Homo sapiens: one gene and its partner. The protein of the gene in region 1 interacts with the protein of each later gene in a pairwise test. Each region holds a gene or a part of one and is shown on either strand. Other genes may lie near its edges.

Region 1 (8,860 bases):
TTGTATTTTTTGTAAACATGGGGTTTCGTCACGTTGCCCAGGCTGGTCTCGAACTCTTGGGCTCAAACAATCTGCCCACCTTGGCCTTGCAAAACGCTGGGATTATAGGTGTGAGCCACTGTGCTCAGCCTTTTTTTTTTTTTTTTTACGAGAAAAGAGGTCTCTTACTTTGTCATCCAAGCGAGAGTGCAGTGGCATGATCATGGCTCACTGCAGCCTCAACCTCTCAAGCTCAAGCTATCCTCCCTCCTCAGCCTCCCAAGTAGCTGGGACTATAGGCCACGCCACCATGCCCAGCTAATTAAAAAAAATTTTTTTTTCTTTTTCTGAAACTGCTCTGAAAAAATTTAAATGGCATTGGAGTCTTTTCATAAAAGGCACACCTACCCTGGAAAACATCTGGGCTTTGTGTTTTGTGGGGAATACAACTTTCTCTCTCTTTTGGGGATAAAGTGCTATTAATTTTTTAAAAATAAAATCATCAATTGTATCCAAACTTTTAAAGTAACAGACATTGAGTTCAGCTAAGCAGTCTTTTATAATTCACAGATGGAATGAAAACTAAGGGAGGGACGAGGTGACCCATGGAGGTTGTATAAAAAGGACAGAGCCTTTGGGCTCTTCAGACTATAAGGGTCCAGGAGGAGAGGAGAAACCACCTCAGAAGCATACAAGGTTAAAGCATACAAGGTGGGTGTAGGGTCAGGGGAGCCAAAGTAAGTGTGCAATGAAAAGTTATTAACAAAAGTCAAAAAAAGAAAATGCAGTCTGGCCATCCAATTCCTAAACCATGTACAGAGTACACAGAAAGAGCACAGGAGGCTTCCTGCAGCAGGGCAGTACAGCTCTCTGCCCTTCAGGAAAACTGAGATTCCTCCACCTGGGAAACAGCAAGGGACAATTAGGGAAAGCTCTCCAGAGGAGGAGGCATCTCAGGTGGGCCAAAGAAGAAAAATTTCCACAGGACAGAAAAGGCAGAGAAGAGGCCAGGCATGGTGGCTCACGTCTGTAATCCGAACACTTTGGGAGGCCAAGGCAGGCGGATCACCTGAGGTCAGGAGTTGGAGACCAGCCTGGCCAACATGGCAAAACCCCGCCTCTACTAAAAATACAAAAATTAGCCGGGTTTGGTGGCACACGTCTGTAATCCCAGCTACTCAGGAGGCTGAGGCAGGAGAATCACTTGAACCCGGGAGGCAGAGGTTGCAGTGAGCCGAGATTGCCCCACTGCACTTCAGCCTGGGGGACAGGGCGAGACTCCATCTCAAAACAAACAAACAAAAGGCTGGGCGTGGTGTGGCTCACACCTGTCATCCCAGCACTTTGGGAGGCCAAGGAGGGCAAATCACAAGGTCAGGAGTTCGAGATCAGCCTGGCCAACATGGTGAAACCCTGTCTCTACTAAAAATACAAAAAATTAGCCGGGCGTGGTGGCGCACACCTGTAGTCCCAGCTACTCGAGAGGCTGAGGCAGGAGAATTGCTTGAACCCGGAGGCAGAGGTTGCAGTGAGCCGAGATCACACCACTGCACTCCAGCCTGGGTGACAGAGTGAGATTCCGTCTCAAAAAAAAAAAAAAAAAAAGAAATTTATGTTCTTTGTAAAATAATTCAGACAATGCAGTAAACAGAAGAAATTCAGCCTCCCTCTCCCTTTGCCCTTTGCTGAGTCCCCACGGTGCAGCAAGATCCTTCCAGATCTTCATGGTTGGGATCATCTTCCACCAGGTCCTGAGGTTTTTCACTCCCTATCAGTAGACACACCACACTGCCCAGTTTGCAAGTAGCTCCATTGGATAACACAGAAAGGCTCTGTCCTGCACCATGTCTCAGCACTGGGTGCATCGTCCCACAGGAATGACACCTAGACACCCAACATACAACTGCAGGGCCCTAAACTATGGGCCAGCCCACCCCTAAATGCCCTTCTCTCTACCCTTGCCCATATCAAATATTACAAGCCTCTCACACATATTTACCAGTCATACTGGGAAAAAAATAGTCCTTTATCATTTTAACATTTCACAAGTAACTAAAACAAATAATAAACATGCTAACACTTGGGAATGGTCTATTTCTTTTCTTTTTTTTTTTTTTTGAGACGGAGTTTCATTCTTGTTGCCCAGGCTGGAATGCAGTGGCGCAATCTCGGCTCACTGCAACCTCCGCCTCCCGGGTTCAAGCAATTCTCCTGCTTCAGCCTCCTGAGTAGCTGGGATTACAGGCATGTGCTACCACGCCCAGCTAATTTTGTATTTTTAGTAGAGACAGGGTATTGCCATGTGGGTCAGGCTGGTCTCCAACTCCTGACCTCAAGTTATCCGCCCTCCTTGGCCTCCCGAAGTGCTGGAATTATAGGAGTGAGCCACCAAGCCTGGCCTCTTTCTAGGCTCACTGCAACCTCCGCCTCCTGGGTTCAAGTGATTCTCCTGCCTCAGCCTCCCAAGTAACTGGGATTACAGGCATGTGCCACCACGCCCCGCTAGTTTTTGTATTTTTAGCAGAGACGGAGTTTCACTATGTTGGCCAGGCTGGTCTCGAACTACTAATCTCAGGTGATCCACCCGCCTCGGCCTCCCAAAGTTCTAGGATTACAGGCGTGAGCCACTACATCCAGCCTCTTTTTTGTTTTTTTGAAACAGGGTCTTGCTCTGTCACCCAGGCTGGAATGCAGTGGCACAATCTCGGCTCACTGCAACCTCCGCATCCTGTGTTCAAGCAACTCTCCTGCCTCAGCCTCCCAAGTAGCTGGGATTACAGGCGCCCACCACTACACCCAGCTAATTTTTTTTTTTTTTTTTAGTAGAGACAGGGTTTCACCATGTTGGCCAGGCTAGTCTCAAACTCCTGGCCTCAAGTGATCCACCTGCCTTGGCCTCCCAAAGTGCTGGGATTACAGGTGTGAGCCACCGTGACTGGCCTCTATTTCTTATTTATACATACACACACACACCCCCCTGTGAAATGACTCTGGGCTCTTCCAATAATGTTGCCACTCTCCCGCTCCCCTTCCCAATGGAAGTGGAGGGATGCAGGGGGTGTTAGTGATGCATTGTAATCATCCCGGAGAGCAGGACACCTCTCATAAGAGGTTTACCCAAGGGGGGCTGTGGAAAGGGCTAGAAATTGCTCCTGGAGGACGTGGAAAGCCACATAAGGTTTTTGACAGATTAGCGAAAGGCTGCCTACACTGTCATCTTCAGAAAGAGTGGTATGACACTAAATCAAGAAGGGCTGAGAGGGTGAGCCCAGGGGATCCCATAGGCTCCACAGCCTCTGGCCATCCTCTCCTATACAGGTCCTAAGTCCCCTGCAGGGGGCCCTCAGCTCCTCTACCCTACCCACTGTCCTGTATGTTATCTTAATGCTTATTAAAGGCCTCAGCTGAATTTCCCTGGTGAACTGAAAGAATTCTGCTGCTCCTGGACACATCTGCACCAAGCCACCACTGGGTCACATTCTCCAAAACTCCTTTTGGAGACAGAAGGCACTTAAACCATACATATTTTGCTTGATAGTTCCTAATTAAAAAAATAGAGAGAGATAAAGAGAAAGAGAGAGAGAGAGAACTACAACTAAGCCTTGAAGACAAAATGATTGAACAGAATCAGAGCTAGAATGGAACACCTCAGGCTTGGAGTCCCATGACAACCTTGCTGGGGACCACGAGTGGCCCTCAGTCCTTCTCAGGCTCATGCCACCTATGTGAAATAAGGGTGGTGACACCCACCTCCTTGAGTGCAGAGCAGTGCAGACAACAGGGCAAATGGTGTATTGATCTGCTATCTGTGTACATAAATTTATTCATTTAAGCCATGGGTATTGTTTGAATATGTGAAAACCATGTCAGGTGCTAGGGATAAGAGACAGATTCCAACCCAGTGGAAAAGACAGATAAGCCAGTGGTTCCTCACACTGTGCCAAGTGCTGGGATGGGGTCACGAAGGAGGCCATAAGAAACCCCAGAGGGGCCACAGAGCTCACTGGGAGGGCCAGAGGCTAACACCTGAGGGATGAGAGGTGTGAGCCAGAAGGTGATGCATACACAGCAATAATTACTGACGGAGGGGAGGAATGGTAAGGGAGGGGAGGAGAGAAAGGAGGAAAGAAAAGAGAAAAGAAAAGAGAGAGAAAAGGAAAAGAAAAGGAAGAGAAGAGAGGGAAGAGAAGAGGAGGCAAAGCCCAAGAAACAGGATCACTGAATGAAAAATGAACTCTAAGACCCCCTTCTGTCTCTCACACTTGTTGACTAAGTCATAGCCACAAGGAGTAGGGGAGGCTCTGAGGTGAGCAGGAGACCAGCCACTGTCACCGCCAGTACCTTTACTAGCAGAGCCAGGATTACCTTTGTTATTCTTCTTACAAACAGCTCTAGTGAACTCACCTGAAGTAATCGCAGGACGCAGCCAGCAGGATGCGATGGGCCTCGATGTGTCTGCCCTCCACCACCAGCACAACATCGAAGAGGATTCCGCTGTCCCGGAGAGCCAGCAGCCCTCGGAGCAGAGCCTGGGAGTGCTGTGCGCTGCGGTAGGTGTTGTTCACGCAGTGTGGGTGTGAGGGCTGTGCAGGCAACTTGCAGAGCTGGGTGAACTCCTGCTCCTCTGCCATCCTGACAGCCACAAGATCCCTTACAACTGTGGCCTGACAGTTGGCAAAACAGGGGACAGGGGTGAGCAGGCAGGCATCAGCCCCACCACACACAGACTGGCCAGCTCTGTTGCTCCCCTTGCTCCTGTGCCTCCCTCAGGCTCACCTGTTTTCCCTCTATTTCCAAATCCCCTAATTCCTTCTCCCCTCCCACCTCTAGTCCAACTTCCTGATGGCCTTCTTCCTGATGACCTGTGTGCCATCATGCCCAAGACTCTTCATCTCATTGTATCTTCTTCAGCGGCAAAGTCAAACAGAAGGGTTTTGGGAAACAGACTGACCTGGGTTGGAGCCCAACTCCACAGGGACTTACAACATGACCAAACTGAGCCTCGAGCTCCCCAATTTTAAAAAGAGAGATAAAAGTACCTACCCCATTGGGGTATTCTAAAATTGGTAAAACAATGAACATGAAGCATAAGCACACACCAGGTTCTCAAGAGCTCTTCCTCCCTCCCATTGAATGAACAAAATTGGGTTCTTCCTCATAGTAATGGATGCATAAAAATGGCAAGACCTGAGTAGTGGTCAGGAGACACACAGCCAGGAGTCTGGGAGGTGGGTGCCAAGGGGGTGGCATTTCCAGGGCCTACTTTCCTTTACTGAAATTCTGAGAGTCAAGCACAGTAACTGTGATTGAACCTGATGCATTTAAATTCATCTGCATTGCCTTTTAAATTAAAGATTATCTTCTAATAATTGAGTCAGTACGTTCAAAAACCGCAAACTGATTTGAATTGGAGCCTCTAAAACCTAATCAGTAAAATGAACCTACTGCAAATGCACTTTTGCCATGGAGCAACCAAAAGTGACTGTGGATAGCCAGCTGTTCAGGTCAGGGAGTGGCCAGTCCCACACTGTGAGGCATGGCCAAGCTGCAGGCTCTGTAGGCACAGCACAGTCAGCTACAAGATGTGAACATCTGTCTTCTCCACCTCACTTCATCCTACTTTCCTCTCCCCAAAATATGTTTATTCTCCAATTACCTCCAGTCATGCATCACTTAATGTTGGGGATACATTCTGAGACTTATATCGCTGGAGGCAATTTCCTCAGTGTGTGAACATCAAAGGGTACACCTACACAAACCTAGGTGGTAGAGACTACTACACATCTAGGCCATAAGGTACAGCCAATTGCTCCTAAGCTACATACTTGTACAGCATGTTACTGTAGTTCTGAATGAAAAAAACACACTGTTTTTCCTCTCCTCTTATACCACAACAACAAACACAGGAGACTTCTGTGACCAAATGTGTGAGGGTTTTTCCCCATTAACAAGCAAGCAATCAATTCTGCCACAGATACCAGCTGGGTGTCTTCTAATTCAGCAGTCCCCAATCTTTTTGGCACTAGGGACCACTTTCTTGGAAGACAATTTTTCCACGGGGTCGGGGAATGGTTTCGGGATCAAACTGTTCCACCTCAGATTATCAGGCATTAGCTAGATTCTCTTTCGGAGCACACAATCTGGACCCCTCACATGCATGGTTCACAACAGGGTTTGTGCTCCTATGAGAATCTGATGCCACCTCTGATCTGACAGGAGGTGGAGCTCAGGTGGTAATGCTGGATCACCCTCCACTCACCTCCTGTTGTGCCACCTGGTTCCTAACCAGCCACAGACTGATACAGGTCTGAGGCCTGGGGGTTGCGGACCCCTGCTCTAATTCAACTCTAACACTACCTGGAGACAGTGTCTGATCCCACAGGTTGAGGGCTGAGTCTCCCAGGTTGTTTCACCTGTGCTTCTGACCAATAGGCTATAAATTGGGTTCCCAAGATCCCCTTCTTGGGTTCAACTAATTTGTTAGAGCGACTCACAGAACTCAGGAAAATACTCATGTCTACTGGTTTGTTATAAAGGGTATTGCAAAGGATACAGATGAAGAGATGCATGGGGCCAGACATGTGGGAAGTGGTGCAGAGCTTCCAGGCCCTCTCCAGGAACATCACTCTTTAGGAGCCTCCATGTGTTCAACTATCCAGAAGTTTTCCAAACCCAGTCATTCAGAATTTTTATGGAAGCTTCATTATGTAGGCATGACTGATTAAATCACTGGCCATTGGTGATGAACTTAATCTTCAGCCTGTCTCCCCTCTCCGGAGGTTGAGAGGTGAGGCTGAAAGTCCCAACCCTCTTATGCCTGCCTTGGCCTTTCCTGTCACCAGCCCCCATCCTGAAGCTACCTAGGGGCTGCTGGCCAGCATACAAAAAGGCATCACTCTGGAAAGTCCAAAGATTTTAGAAGTTGTATGCCAAGAAATGAGACAAGACCAAATATATATTTCACAATATCACAGTACTGAATACTATAGGCAACTGTAACACAATGGAATTTGTGTATCTAAACACAGACAAGGTACAGTAAAAATATGGGACCACCATCCTTCATGTGGTCTGGTCTGTCATTGACGGAAACATCACTGTGTGGCACATGATTATATATCTTTAAAAGAAAAAATGAAAAATATATGCTGATATAAAACTTGCCAAAAAGAAGAGGTCTCTCTCTTCACTACTGAGGCTCAGGGCCACCCCCAACCCCATCCCCTGGATGCTCTACTGCTTCCCATCAAACACACTCAGTTATCTGTGCCTGCCCCTGAGTCTGCCTCCAGGACCTGGGACCTCTATCCAGCCACCCACCCATTCCTTTCCCCCTCCTGGGCTGGCTCATCTTTCTCACCAAGGCCCCAGAGATGGCCACAGCCAAGGTGTATACCCCATGACCACCTCTCACTTAGGATTCTCTTGCCTGGAAACTCTGCTCTATGATAATTCTCCCTTTTCTGACCTCTCTCTTTCATCCCACACACCCTGCTCGAGCCCATCCTTCTTTCCCAGTGGTTCACATTCCCAGTTTCACCTACAGCTCAGTGCCTAATCTAGCTAGTAGCCCTCCAACTTGTCTAATTTTACTATCAAAGCTACCATTTCCATCTTGGAAACCTCACTGTTTTAATATTTTTCCTTTCTAACCCATGTGCCCTATGAACCTACTAGTTCTGATTCCTTCACCTCTCCTCCATCTCAGACAGCCACCCTCCACTCCTCCAGGGCCACCACTCTGGGTCAGACCACAGCAGTGATGCCCCTACCAGTTTCCCTACCTCTTGTCTCATCCTCCCCAGGCTGCTCTCCTTCAAGCCTTACCTACTCAGCCCCATCAGCAGTCCTTAGTCCAAAAGGGATACCTGTCATCCCCTGAACACCTTTAGTCACCCATCTAGGCCATTCTGTCTCTCATAGTCCCATATTGGTCAAGGTCTAGCTCGATTACTTCTCCCTCTATCATTGTACAGAGAACATGACAAATATGCCCCACCATTCAAACCTGCCCTTTTTTTTTTTTTTAGACGGAGTCTCGCTCTGTCACCCAGGCTAGAGTGCAGTGGTGTGATCTTGGCTCACTGCAACCTCTGCCTCTCAGGTTCAAGTGATTCTCCTGCCTCAGCCTCCCCAGTAGCTGGGATTACAGGCGTGCACCACCACACCCAGCTAATTTTCTTGCATTTTTAGCAGAAATGGGGTTTCACCATGTTGGTCAGGCTGGTCTCGCATTCCTGACCTCAGGTGATCCATCTGCCTTGACCTCCCAAAGTGCTGGGATTACAGGCATGAGCCACCGCGCCCGGCCCAAACCTGCCTATTTACCCACGACAAGGAGATTCCGGCTTCTTGAGGGGTGAGGTTTTATCTCACAAACATCTCAAAAGCCCCCATGGCTGGCTGTACCACTTGCTAATGACAGACTCTGGGCACTTGTCTCATATACCCACGCCTCAGCTTTCTCATCACCACCATGACCACCGCAGAGTCAAGAGGGCCTCCTTCTCTGAGGGTGACCTCCACAACTACCCCAATAGACATCAAGCCCCCAGGTGGATCCTCACCTTCCGTGAGCATAGTAGTGCCTCTGCTCTCTTGGGAAGGGATAAATGGCAGCTACTCCCTAAACCCATACTGCAAAAACAAGTACGGTAAAACAGAAAGACATCTTCCATGGGCAGGCAAAGCACATTTACCAAGTCCAATTTAAGAAACTTAGCTAGGGGCTAAGGGGGATATGCTGAAAAATGAATCAATTCTCTGCTGGGAAGGAGCACAGCACAGGGTGCAACATTTAAAACATTTAAAACCACATCTATACGGTTTTAAATCACCAAAACGTCCACCCTCAGGAGAACAGATGTCATGGCACAGTGAT
Region 2 (8,860 bases), on another chromosome or scaffold:
TGGACATATGTTTTCTGTCTTCACCACTAGGGTATATACCTATGGGTGGAATTGCTGGGTCATGTGGTACCTCTATAATTAACTTTTTGAGGAACTGTCAAACAGTTTTCCAAAGTGGTTGTACCATTTTATATTTTACAGATCCACCAGAAATGTATGAGGGTGCTTATTTCTCTGTATCCTCATCAACCCTTGTTATTGTCTGTTTTGGTTTTGTTTTTTAATTGTAGCTATCCTACTGGGTATGAAGTAGGATTTCATTGTTTTGATTTGCATTTCCCTCATGACTAATAACATTGAGCATCTTTTTATGTCCTTATTTTCCACTTGTGTATCTTCTTTGGCGAAATGCCTATTCAAGTCCATATGCATGTTTTAATTGGGTTGTTTGCCTTTTTATTGTGGAGTTGTAAGACTTCTTTACGTATTCTGGATACTACACCCTTGTCAGATACATTATTTGCAGATATTTTCTCCCATTTTATGGGTTGTCTTCACTTTCTTGATACTACTCTTTGAAGCATAAAAGTTTTAAATTTTGATGAAGTCAATATTTTTTTTTTTTGCTTTGGCTGCTTGTGGTGTTATATCTAAAACCCGTTGCCTAACCCAAGATCACAGATTTTAACTCTTGCATTTAGGTTTTTGATCCATTTTGAGTTTAAAAAATTTATTATATGCTATGAAATAGTTGTCCAACTTCATTTTGAATTATTAGACCAGTTTCATTCTTTTGCATGTGAATACTCAGTTCTCATGGTACAATTACTTGAAAATACTATTCTTTTCCCATTGAATTGTCTTGGTACTCTTGTCTAAAATCAATTGATCATAAATATATGAGTTTGTTACTAGACTTTATTTTGAGATAGAGTCTCGCTCTGTTGCCAGGCTGGAGTGCAGTGACGCGATCTTGGCTCACTGCAACTTCTGCCTCCTGGGTTCAAGCGATTTCCTGCCTCAGCCTCCCGAGTAGCTGGAACTACAGGCACGCACCACCATACCTAGCTAACTTGTGTATTTTTAGTAGAAATATGGTTACCCCCTGTTGGCCAGGATAATGTCGATCTCTTGACCTCATGATCTGCCTGCCTCGGCCTCCCAGAGTGCTGGGATTACAGGTGTGAGCCACCATGCCTGGCCTGTTACTAGACTTTTTTTTTTTTGAGACAGAGTCTTGCTCTGTCCCCCAGGCTGGAGTGCAGTGGCAGGATCTCCACTCACTGCAAGCTCCACCTCCTGGGTTCACACCATTCTCCTGCCTCAGCCTCCCAAGTAGCTGGGACTACAGGCACCCGCCACCACACCCGGATAATTTTTTTTGTATTTTTAGTAGAGACGGGGTTTCACCATGTTAGCCAGGATGGTCTTGATCTTCTGACCTCGTGATCCACCCACCTCGGCCTCCCAAAGTGCTGGGATTACAGGCGTGAGCCACTGTGCCTGGCTGTTTTTAGACTTTTAATTCTGTTCCATTGATCTGTATAGATGCCTGTCCTTATGCCAGTACCACACTGTTTTGATTACTGTAGCTTTATAGTAAGTTCTGAAGATTTTATTCCTTGTTTTTGTTCTGTTCCTTCATTATTGACTTGGCTTTTTTGACAGTTTGATTATGACATCTAGGTGAGGCTGGCTCCCTTTTAGTTTATTTTACTTGGAATTCATTGAGCTTCTTGGGTGTAATTTTTTTCATGTCAAATTTGGAAAGTTTTTAGCCATTATTCTTTCAAATATTCTTTCTTCTTTTCTCTTCTGTATGTTGGTATGCTTAATAGTGTCCCTCAGGTTCTGTGACTCTGTTTATTTTTCTTCACTGTTTTTTCCTCCTGTTTCGCAGTTTGGGTAATCTCAATTGACCTGTCTTCAAGTTTGCTTGTTCTTTCTTCTAAATGCTAAAAAGTGGTTTTGAGCCCCTTTCATGAACGCTTATCTTTTCCCCCTTTTACTTTTGAACTCCAGAATTTGTATTTGATTCTTAAAAAAATGGTAATAATAATTTCTATCTCGTTATCAGTATCAATAGTGATACTGATATTTATTGATATTCTCTACTTAAAAGACGTTATTCCCATACTTTCCTTTAGTAATTTTTGCATAGTTTTCTTAGCTCTTTGAGCATATTTAAAATAGGTGATTTAGAGACTGTTTTCTGCTAAGTTCTTCATATGTGGGCTTCCTCAGGGACAGATTTTATTGATTGCTTTCTTTTTCCTATGTATGGGCCATACTTTGTTGTTTCTTTGTCTAATTTTTTTTTTTTTGCTGTTATTGAGAAATGGATTTTTAAATAACACAATGGGGTGACTCAGGAAATCAGATGCTCCTTTCTTCCCATGGTTGCTATTGGTACGTGATATAGTTGTTCTTGTTTAATGACTTTTCTGAACTAATTCTGTAAAGTTTGTATTCTTTATTGTGTCTGACCAGTGAAATCTGTACTTGGTGAACTTAGTGGCCAAGTAATTATTAGATGGCGATTTCCTTAAACTCCTGGGATCAGTAAACACCTGTTTTTGTCGAGGGGCTTCATCTACCTGTTGGAGCATACCTTCATTGCTTGGCCTAACAGTTAAAAACTGCCTTAGCCTTTATTTCCTGCTGATGTTGAGTCAAAGTCAGCCAGAGGTGAGAGCTTAAGGCCTTCTTAGGTTTTTCCTGAGTGTGCAGTGAAGCTCTGTACATTCATGTGTCTTTCTAGATTCCTGGGAAAATGTCAAAGCTTTTCAAAGCCCCCACGGACATTTTATTTCCCACCTTTGCCTTTGGTTTGCCTCAGTTGTTATCTGCCACCTCAGGAGGCTGCAAAGTTAAAACACTTGCCGTATTTTCAACAGACACTCCTGGGTTGGGAGGAAGGCTTTTCTGAGTTTAGCCAGAAACAGTCAGTCAGTCTTGCAAATGAGGTCTTACAGGGAACCATCAGACAGGTCAAATGATGACAGTTCTTTGAGAATGAAGCTTTGAAAGAGCTCTAAGAGCACTGTTTTCTCCAGCGATGGCTGCTACGCTGTACCAGGAATGCGGCCTGCTGAGAGCCTGGAGAGTGGGGATGGGTCTAGGCCAAATTAAAATATCACAGAGCTCACTGTTCTTACTGAGATGTGGTTGTTTTCCTTGAATTAATGCTCCCTGGGTTCCTGCAAACCTTTGGTTAGTTTCCAAAATCCATAAGAAGTTGATACTGACAATTTTTGCCAACTTTTTGGTTGCTTTTATGGAGGAGAGCTTTTTGGAGGCCTGTAGTAACCACCATTTTCACTGACATCCTTTGGATCAGGAATCTCTTAAATCTTTTTTGTTTTCCTGAGGGTTCTTGCTGCCCTTCTTTTTTATCTTGTTATCAAAAATAGTATACTTCATCATAACCTCAGAATTACCCAGATTCATTAATACTGAGTATTGTCTAGAAATCTCTTTCTGCCTGAACTCCACTCTAGACTGGTTATTTCCTGTTCTGCTGTATAGCTACACTCCTGGTATTTTCTTCCTGCGTTTATAGATTAAATGCAGTTTTTGGACTTGAGTTGGATATTCCTCTTTTTCAGTTTTCATCCTCATTTTGTTTTTCTCAAAGTGATATATAATGTAGAATTGTTGTATATCTTAAAATGCATTTATTTTAACTTTTCACTTATTTCTCAGTTTGGGTGTATGTAGAATTCTAGCTTAAAAATAATTTTCCCTTGTTAGGATTGAAAGGGATATCTTCTTACACTCTGTGTAATTGATTCTGGAAGTCTATTCCATCTCTTTGTGAGTAAGCTTTTTCTCCTCCTTGGAACTTTCAGGACCTTTTTAAAAACACCCAGTGTCATAAAATTTCATGAGTCTTTCATTCATTCTGCTTAGCTCTTGGTGGGACTTTTCAATCTGGAGGCATATTTTCCTTTGGCTCTGGAAAATTATCTTATTACTGTCATAATTTCTGGAATGCCAAATTGATTGCCTGAATTGATCTGTGTTTCTACCTTGATTTCTTTGACTTTATCTTCCAGCCTCTTTATTGAAGTTTAATTTTAGCTACTGTATTTTAAATTCTTGTGTTCTTTCTTTTTGGCCTAATTGTTCTATTTTCATATTTTATTCTGGTTATATGGATATAGTGTCTTCTCAGATCTCTGTGAAGACATAAAATAGAAATATTTTTGGATATCTTTTTTCCAAATTAGCTCTGTATTTTTTTTTAACTTGTTTTCATCTGCCTGTTTTTTCTCACAAGATGCAGTCTTCAGTTCTCTAGTTTTTTTTTTTTTTTTTTTTGAGACAGAATTTCACTCCTGTTGCTCAGGCTCCTGTTGCAATGGTGCAGTCTCGGCTCACCGCAACCTCTGCCTCCCAGGTTCAAGCGATTCTCCTGCCTCAGCCTCCGGAGTAGCTGGGGTTACAGGCATACAACACCACGCCTGGCTAATTTTGTATTTTTGGTAGAGACGGGGTTTCTCCATGTTGGTCAGGCTGGTCTCGAACTGTCAACCTTAGGTGATCTGCCTGCCTCGGCCTCCTAAAGTGCTGAGATTACAGGTGTGAGCCACCATGCCCGGTCTTTTTTTTTTTTTTAATACAAAAATATTTTTCTCCCATTCTCTTGAGTGTGGGACCGTATTGATGGGTTTGTCTACTGTGTGTCTGAAACCTGCTCGTCCCACCACCACCGACAGCTGAGTGGATTGACCAGTCAGCTTTGCTTTATAGGACATAGGGTCTTGGCATCCTAATGCTTGAGTGAGTAGGACTTCACTTGACACACAGGCATCCACACTAGGTCCTCAGACTGCTGGTCAGTGTCTTTGGAGCAAGGTCCTCCATTCTTCTGTAGCAAACAGAGGGATTCCTGTCCCTTTCAGTGGGGCGTCCAGGGCCACAGCAGTTCCCACATGTGCCCCTGGCCTTGCTCCTGCTCTGCATACCTGCCGACTCCCAACTGGAGCCTATGTAGCTGTGGCTTCTGGATGTCTCCTACCCTATAGGATTTGTCTCCTGTGCCCCTCCTCCTTTTGTCTTCTGCAGATTTGTTGACATCTCATCTGTTCCTGGCCTCCCTCTTCCCCCATTTTCACTGTCTGGGGTTTTTCTCTTCATGCCTATTATGCCTGCAGTTCACAAGAGGTCAGAGAGATGGCTGTCTGTTCCCAGTGTGACATCTTCACCTGGGACCTCTGGAAGCATTTCTTGTCTGGTTTTCTCCCTTGATGATTTGGTTCATTCCCCTGGGTAGGCAGTGTGAGAAGCTTCCCCAAATTTGGAAATTATTATGTTATATAGAGCTGGGTGGGAGAATTATATTTGTTAAGTGAGCTTGTTCTTGTGAAGGCAGGCTGAGGAGCCTTGGGCCCTCTGTGTCGTGTTTCCATTGCACACAAGTTCATGGTTAGACATGATTTGGCCCAACATGTGTCTGGATCATTTCAGGAGTGAGTGGATCTGTTGTTCCATTTGCTCACGTTCCTCATGGTGTTAGAAGGTAGGGAGTGAAGCTCAGTTGCCTATTGTTCAATAGGACTAGCCAAGTAAATACCCTTTTCCGTGGTAAATTCCCCTATGAAAGGTCATGCAAGTGGAACTGCGATCTCATGAGAGGATGCTTCCTTGGAGTCTGCATGTGAACCTGGCAGAGCCGCCTGTGGTTAGCAGAATATCTTCGCTGTGTCCCCCAGTGGGCAGCCTTCTGCCACCTTCTCCCCTCACTGCATGGCTCAGGAACTATCTTTCATTTAGTAACTATCTGATGGGCTGGATGTGGTGGCTCACATGTGTCATCCCAGCACTTTGGGAGGCTGAGGCAGTAGGATCACTTGGGGCCAAGAGTTCGAGACCAGCCTGGGCAACAGCAAGACCCCTGTCTCTACAAAAAATAAAAATAAAATTAGCCAGGCATGGTGGCACGTACCTGTAGTCCCAGTTACTCGGGAGGCTGAGGTGGAGGGATTGCTTCAGCCCAGGAGTTTGATGCAGCAGTGAGCTGGGATCACGCCACTGCACTCCAGCCTGGGCAATGCAGTGAGGCCGTGTCTCTTAAAGAAAAAGAAGAAAAACTGACAGCGGTGACTCCTGCACATCATTTCTCCCATTTCCATTTTTTATTTACGAATATTTAAACTACAGTTAGGTTATGGTATTGTATTTCATTGGAAATACTAAACTCCAGTTTGGAAAATCTATCAGTTTGGGTTGTCTTTTTTTCCAATCATTTTATAAGCGTTTAATGAGCCATCTACCAAATGACATGGAGAGTAGCTTCCAAATTATTTTTATTCCACATACCTATTAGAAAAAAGTTTTAAGTACTTGATCCCAGTGTCTTCTTAATGCATACATTATACAGATACAAAATGTAAATGGAAGTTCTGTTTTATTTCCTCTTCTAATTACTGACCTGTGAACCTCCTGGGGTATGCATACCCTGCTTTGGAGACTGCTGGCTGGAATACATGATATGAAGTAAAAGGAACCCTACTCCCACAGCTGCCAGTCCAGTTCTGGAGACGGACAAGTGGTGGGGCAGGGATAGGTGTTCCTAGGGCGGTGGGGAAGGCCATGGGGCCAGTCTCTGCCTAGGACAGGCTCAGAGGGAGGAGGGTGAGCTGAGGCTTTTAGAGGCTTGGTTTTGTAAAGAACCAAGACAAAATGCAAAACCATGTGCGAGTGTTGGTGGTATATTGGTGAGCATAGCTGCCTTCCAAAACCAAAGGAGTTGGTCTCATACTCTTGGATGAAGACCAGGCTATAGTCAACCAGGCAGTGCAGTGGCTCATGGAAGGAAGAGGTGGTGCTTGTCTCTTGTACAGCAGTCCTGGGGTGAGCAATTCAGGGTGTGCAGCCCCCTCAGCTTTCTTGGTTGCTGTGGTCCAGGGCTGGGCTCCTGCGTCTCCCAGGTAGCCACAAGGGGAGGCAAGGAAGAAATACCACTTGTCTCCTCTGCTCACTTTTTGCTGTGACAATTGGTCTCCGTTAACTGGAGAAGGGAGAAGAAGATTGGGTCACAGCAGCTTCCACCACAGCATTTTACGTTACCAGTTATGCTGAGAAAGATTTTCTGGTGGATTTACTAAATGAGCTGACATCTTCAGGTTGCTCTAGGTATAAATTAGGCTGGTATGGTTTTCTTCACTGAGATGCCTGGTGAGCCTGATGACAGCGCTGTAGTGTGCAGTCAGGTACCTTGGAAACCATCACCACTCCCACCGTACAGCACACCAGTGGTCACCCTGATAGGAGAGATGATTTTCTTCTGCTGTGTCCCCAGGTCTCAGTGGCCCTTAGCAGCAGCTCCATTCGTGTGGCCATGCTGGAGGAAAATGGGGAGCGCGTCCTCATGGAAGGGAAGCTCACCCACAAGATCAACACTGAGAGTTCTCTCTGGAGTCTCGAGCCCGGGAAGTGCGTTTTGGTAAGTTTGGGCACCTGTGTGTAGGGCTCCCAGGTGGACTTCAAACCTGCAGTGATGCCCCTTTTGACCAACAAGCCTATTTACACTTAAGCAGTGAGGTTGTTAATTTCAGCTGCTGGGGCAGATGGGTTTTCCTGAGCATTTTCCATACTGCTCAGAGATCGTCTCTGTGGGCACTTGAGCTTTGGCCCTTTGAGGTCTTGGTCATTCCCAAGAGCTCCACTGTTCTTACATCTAAGGCAAAAACAAGTAAATTGAAAATGAAAAGCTAGGTTGAATTTTTACAGATGCTACTCTGGAGGGTACAGAGTTAATAAATTCAGAGAATCAGGCTCATTGACCAACTGGCTGTCCTTAGCCAGCTGCTGGTTAGGCATAGCTAAGAGTTCAGGACAGTGAGATTAAGGTGTGACTCCAAATGAACAGCTCACATGTTACCAGTTAGCAGACTCGCTCACAAATTGGGCTGCACGCCTGGGCCAGATCTGTTGGTGGCTCAGCTCCTTCTCCCCTGTGAAAGCTTTGAACCTTGTCAGTGGTGGCTCTGTGCTGGTGCCCAAGTGGAGGTCACCTACAGATAAATTGAGGCACAACATGTTCTGAACTAACTTGTTTCCTTTTTTTCTCCTACTGGGGTGTTTACAGGGCATGGTAAAAGGAATAAAGGTGAAAAGAAAAATATAATGTCTGGACAAAAGTCTTTAGAATTTTATACAGATATATTCTTCATATGTGCAAAGTATGCAATAAAGGTATCTGTTTTGGTTTCTATAAGACATGCTTGGCAGGCTTCTGCCTGGGCTTCCCTGGCCAGTGCTGACTGGCAGGGACAAACTATCTCTCAGGCTCACAGTGACTCTGTCCTGGCTGTCCTCATGCTCGGAGGGACATGCAGGCCAGGTACCGAAAGGAGTGTATTCTGTCAGTGCTGCAGAAACCTGGACCAACCTTGACTCTGGTCTTGATATCAAACCTGGACAATGGAGCTCACTCTGGCTACACAGAGGTGGGGCCAACCTGGGCACAGACAACATGCTCCTTGGTGCTGCCGTGGCCTCAACTGCTCACTCTCCTAGTGAGTGTTTCATCCTAAGCAGGGCCTCCTATTTAGGCCCTACGTGAGGCCCTATGTGTGATGTGTAGAGTTTCCAGCAATGGGGCTTGGACTGGCCCATCCCAGTTCTGACTCTCCTGGCCACCCAGGGCCTACCTCTGCTGATGGCCAGTGGTAGATGGCAGTGGTTCTTTTTCTAAATCTCACCCTGTGTGCTCCCCTGCCCATGGCATTCAGCAGCCAAAGACCAGAGAAGTGCTCTTCTCCTGCCTGCAAATACTGTGAAGATCACCCCATCACCCAGCAGTTCAGTTCCTCATCCTTTGACCCCAGACATATAAAGCCTGTGCATTATGACACAGCCTGGAGCCTTTTCCCAAGCTATAGGCTCCTGTGACTACTACCAGTTCCTTTCC

What was found.
Region 2: the proteins of KLHL22 (region 1) and NUDCD3 interact in binary tests that used the Homo sapiens proteins (3 or more experiments, as listed by UniProt).

Annotation. Positions count from the first base shown.
Region 1 is NC_000022.11:20,484,602-20,493,461, forward strand, and holds part of KLHL22 (kelch-like protein 22), read right to left. Parts: exon of another isoform or gene 8,658-8,860; coding exon of another isoform or gene 8,547-8,657; intron 8,541-8,546; exon of another isoform or gene 5,230-8,540; coding exon of another isoform or gene 5,167-5,229; intron 4,644-5,166; coding exon of another isoform or gene 4,611-4,643; coding exon 4,384-4,610; intron 1-4,383. UniProt on the Homo sapiens protein: Substrate-specific adapter of a BCR (BTB-CUL3-RBX1) E3 ubiquitin ligase complex required for chromosome alignment and localization of PLK1 at kinetochores.
Region 2 is NC_000007.14:44,402,970-44,411,829, reverse strand, and holds part of NUDCD3 (nudC domain-containing protein 3), read left to right. Parts: intron 1-7,246; coding exon 7,247-7,390; intron 7,391-8,860.